Regions from separate parts of the Homo sapiens genome. Here region 1 is linked to region 2. Evidence: fine-mapped expression QTL. Tissue or cell type: whole blood. Region 2 holds a variant in brackets; the other region holds the start of a gene. All regions are shown on one strand. Distances are from middle to middle.

What was found. PIP is the estimated chance that this variant, and not a neighbour inherited with it, causes the effect.
Region 1: C22orf39 starts here. The variant in region 2 is fine-mapped to the expression of C22orf39 in whole blood (INTERVAL, PIP above 0.99).

The regions. Positions count from the first base shown.
Region 1 is chr22:19,446,669-19,449,168 of GRCh38, forward strand. C22orf39 (chromosome 22 open reading frame 39) reads right to left here and starts at 1,043. Exons shown (of 3, transcript NM_173793.5): 1 at 997-1,043; 2 at 710-877. The coding sequence starts at 1,020. UFD1-AS1 (UFD1 antisense RNA 1) reads left to right here and starts at 766. Exons shown (of 2, transcript NR_186687.1): 1 at 766-1,657. RefSeq lists an enhancer at 239-1,141 and a silencer at 589-988.
Region 2 is chr22:19,417,807-19,420,306 of GRCh38, forward strand. All of the region lies in intron 1 of HIRA (histone cell cycle regulator), which reads right to left. Among named protein-coding and RNA genes, the nearest start is that of HIRA, 13 kb to the right of the region's middle. The variant AAC/A (reference allele first, on the strand shown) is at 1,119.

The DNA of each region.
Region 1 (2,500 bases), 29 kb after region 2:
ACCCTAGCAAACAGATTGAACTTCTTTTACCCTCTCTCTTTTTTTTCCCCCCTGAGACAGGTCTCCCTCTGTTATCCAGGCTGGTGTGCAGTGGTGTGACCATAGCTCACTGCAGCTTTGAACTCCTGGGCTTAGGCGATCCTCCCGCCTCACCCTCCCAAGTAGCTGGGACCACAGGTGCACGCCACCACACTTTGCTAACAGACTGATCTTTTAAAGATATAAATCGAATTATGCCTCCCAGCACACTTTAGACTAAACTCTAAACTCCGTATCAAAAGGCCCGCCAGGTCCCTGGTATACCGCTCTCCAACCATCCACCTACCCTCTGCTTCAGGAACCCAGGCCTTATCTGTTTCTCAGCGGTGTCTACCGGGGCTGGATGAAGGCTGGCTCCTGGTCACTCAGGACTCAGCAACATCACCTCCTGCGTAGGCCAGCTGATGACCCTAACACCGGACGGCTGCCCTCTTCCCTCTCTAAACCACTCTACACCCCCTCCTCGCTGGTCTCCTCCTTTGTCTTTCACGCCCTCTGAAAGTCCTGTTGATATGCTAATTTACACAATCTCTCAAAAGAAAGGAAGCGTGAGGAGGATAGGGACCCCGTCAGTCCCCGGCTAGGTCGCGGGGCATGGGGCGTGGAGGGGTGGGGAAAGCTGGGCCCCGCAAGGCGCTCCGAAGCGCCGCCCCGCTCCCTCCCGGCGCACCTGGGCCTCGGCGTTCCGGCGCTCCTCCCAGTCGCGGCAGCTGGCCAGGTCGCGCTGCCACTGTTCGCAGGCCGGCCGCTCGCCGTGGACGTAGTAGTGGTGTAGGAAGTGCCTGGCGCTGCGGCAGAGCTTCCACTCGGCGCGGTAGGCCTCGCAGGGGCGCGGCGGCTGCGGCGAGAGGCGGCGCCTGAGCGGGGCCCGGCGGCCGCGCCCTACGCCCCGAGCCAGTCCCGTTCCCTCCCTCCGGAAGACCCCGGTGGTTCCCGGCTCCGACCCAGCACACTCACCTGCCAGCCGCTGCCGTCCGCCATGTCTGGGCGACCGGCGCGCCAAGCCCGCCCCTCAGTCCGCCAGCCAATGAAAAATGAAGAAAACGGCACCTCGTGATCGACTGACAGAAGAACTAATGAGCACCGACACATTCAATCACGTCTTCGCCCCCTTCTTCGAGAAGCGCCGACAAACAGGACGAGCAACCAATAGCAACCGAGGGCGGCTGCGGCGCGCGCGGAGGGCCGGGGTCGCAGGGTAAATCCGGGGCGAGACCTGGCGCGAAGCCTACGCGACCACCGCGACGACAGCGCCATTCACCCCGGGCCAGGCGGGCATCCTGGGCCGCGCAGCTACCTTACGTCAGCCGCCTCTCAAATCACACGGCTCTGGCCAGTTCTTTTCAGCAGCTTTATGAGATTTTCTCAAATCTCAACAATCCGGTATATTTTCAAAAGTACATACTGAGCATCAAGGTGGTGCAGCGAACCTCCCAGATCTGCAGCTCCAGCAGTCTTGCTTGAGCGTCCACTCAGGATGGAGGTGAACTCGCAAAGTAACTGAGATTGGTTGGGCATGACATATGGTGGATCTAGGGTTGAATGACCTCCCCAGGGAACGCAGGCTTGAAGTGGAGGCTGAGAATGCAATCCGAGTACAGCCATAGGCCGGTCAAAGGTATGGAGGCGGTGTGTAGCAGGGGTGAGCGGGGTAGGAGTGGCTTGGATGTCTGTAGTTCTATTCTAAGGGTGCGGGAGACATGTAACATTTACCTTATTCATTTTTCGAGACAGGGTCTTGCTGTGTCACCCAGGCTTAGTGCAGTGGCGTGGCGTGTTCATGGCTTACTGCAACCTCAAACTCCTGGACTCCGAACAGCTGGGACCAAAAGCATGCACAGCCTCACCAGGCTAATTTTTAATTTTTTTTTTTTTTTTTTGTAAAGATGGGGTCTTGCTAAGTTACCCAGGCTAGTTTGGCCTCAAGCGACCCTCTCACTTTGGCCTCCCAAAGTGCTAGGATTATAGGCGGAGCGCCAGTGCCTGGCTGGGACGTTTATAAAAAGGAGCAATGCACAAGAGGCAACAAAGGCAAGTAAAGAGGAGGCTGGTGGGCTTGCAGAAACGCCCTGCAGTACCTATGCTGCGGTTCTCCCACTTCACTGATAACAAATCCTCAGTATCCACTGATACAAATCCTGGGACTGCTGGGCCAGTCCCAGGAATGACACTGGGACAGACTCCCTGGAGGTGGATCAGAAAGCTGCAGTTTTACCAGGGGTCCTGCTGTTGAGGCAGCCGGCTCAAGGACCAAGCCCAAATAAGACACTGAGAGGAAGGCTGCAGGCCAGGGTGCAGGAGTAATGACCAGGATCAGTGCTCCAACTGGCCCCACTGTGTCATTAAAAGGCTCTGCAATGGAATCCATCCTGGTCCAGGCAGGGGAGTGTGCCTCCAGCAAAGGACCAGGCGTTTCACTGCATACACAGCAGGTGTTGCTTAGTGAAGACAAAAACCCAGA
Region 2 (2,500 bases):
GCAGTACTATTCACTACAGCCAAGAGGTGGAAGCAACCCAAGTGTCCCTTGACCGATGAATGGATGAACAAAATGTGGTATATATCCATACAATGGAATATTATTTAGCCTTAAAAAGGAAAGTAGTTCTGATGCACACTACAATGTGGATGAACCTCAAAGACATTATGGTAAGTGAAAAAAGACAAATGTCATAGGATTCCACTTATATGAGCTATCTATGAATAGTCAAATTCATAGAAACACAAAGTAGAATGGTGGTTGCCTACGTCTGAGTTGAGGGGAAAATAGGGAGTTGTTGCTTAATTGGTATAAAGGTTTGCAAGATGAAAATGTTCCGGAGACTGGCTGCACAATAATGTGAATTGTGACAGTACTGAATTACATACTTAAAAATGATTAAGATAGTAAATTTTATATTGTGAATATCTGACCACAATTTTTAAAATGCTAATAAAAACCAAACAAAACCAAAAATAAAAATAAATAAAATGGAGGAGTGTAGGAGGGAGGTGGGTGTAATTATAAAAATTGTTGGCGGGGTGCGGTGGCTCACACCTGTAATCCCAACACTTTGGGAGGCTGAGGCGGGTGGATCATGAGGTCAGGAGATTGAGACCATCCTGACTAACACGGTGAAACCCCGTCTCTATTAAAAATACAAAAAAAAAAAATTGCCAGGCATGGTGGTGGCAGGCGCCTGTAGTCCCAGCTACTTGGGAGGCTGAGGCAGGAGAATGGCATGAACCTGGGAGGCGGAGCTTGCAGTGAGCCGAGATCGCGCCTGTTCCAGCCTGGGCAACAGAGCGAGACTCTGTCTCAAAAAAATAAAAATAAAAAATATATAAAAATTGTTGGAACTGTTCAGCATCTCGACTGCAGTGGTAGATACATGAACCTGCACAGGTGACAAAATTGTATAGAACTAAACATACACACGCACAAATAAGTACAAACAAAACTGGGGAAATAAATTTTAAAAAATAGGTAGCATATGTCAATGTCAACTATAGTTTTGCAAAATGTTAACATTGGGAGAAACTGGACTAAGTCCAGAAGTACCTTCTCAGTATTTCATACAATTCGGTGTGAATCTATAATCATCTCGATAAGAAATA[AAC/A]ACACACACACACACACACACACACAAGGCCTGTTTTTAAAAAACGATATATATGTGTGTGTACTAATATATAAGGCAGTAGAGGTAAATATCCAAACACCAGAGGTTAGGTCATAATAAAAATGATTCTTTTCATGTGCAGGTGACAATATGCACACTCTATAACAAGCAATCCCTCTGGAGAAACTCATCAGCCAAACACACTAATGTGACCTATATGCAAGTAACTCCTATGGCTGACTGCCTTCTAGACACCTCACCCTGATCTTCTCTATAACGGTCTGATCTTTCCAAGAAACCTGCTCTACCCACTGTCTGCCCCAACACAGTTAAGGCCAGACCTTGAGAGGAGAGGCCAACAATCCTTGCACAATGGCCACCCCGCCCCCACGACTTTTCTGACCTCATCTCCTACTAACCCCCACCATCGCTGGTCTTCCTCTTTTCTTGGACTGTACCAGGTGCGCTCCTATCTTGGGCCTTGTACTGACTCTTCCTTGCCTCCTTCAGGTCTTTGCTCAATGTCACCCTCACATTGAGGCCTACTCTAACAACTTTAATTTAAAGGATTATTTCCCCAATGTGGCACAACAAATCCCCTTAGTCCTGATCTATTTATTTCCTCGGGAATTTCTTACATATTAATTTCCTTTATTGTATGTCTGTCTACTCTGCCCACTAGAATGTAAACTCCAGTAAGTAGATCAGCTCTTTTGTCTGTTTTATTCACTAATTCATCCTCAGGACCCAGAGCTGTGGCTTGGCACATAACAGGCACAACAATAAAAACTTGTTGCTGTTGAATGGCTGGAGAAAGCTCATGACAGAAGCACTACATTCAAACACCTTCAGTATCACTGGTGTAACAATCTTTGGAAGGCAGGCTCCTGATCTACTGCTGTGGGGACTCAGATTTCGCCAACTGCCTGCAGGTGGGAAGCACACCCTTGGCTGGTTCACAGCCATCTGCTGCTGTTATCTCTACCACTTTCGACCACAAAAACTTATCCCCATCTTCTTTAGTAAGCATGACACAATGACATCTCATAGGTGTCAGATGCCTAAGAGATTGAAAACATAGCACAGGAAGGAAGCTGTTGCACCATACAACCATTGTGTGTGTGTGTGTGTGTGTGTGTGTGTGCACGCGCCACAAACTAAAGTGGAAAAGTGTCACAGGTATATCATTTAGGAGACCTTAATCACTTCTCCTGAAGCATCTGCCAACATATAATCAACAAAGTTTTGAGATTGGGCGCAGTGGCTCACTCCTGTAATCCCAGCACTTTGGGAGGCCAAGGCAGGCAGATCACTTGCTCTGAGGAATTCGAGACCACTTTAGGCAACATGGTGAACCCCATCTCTACAAATTAAAAACAA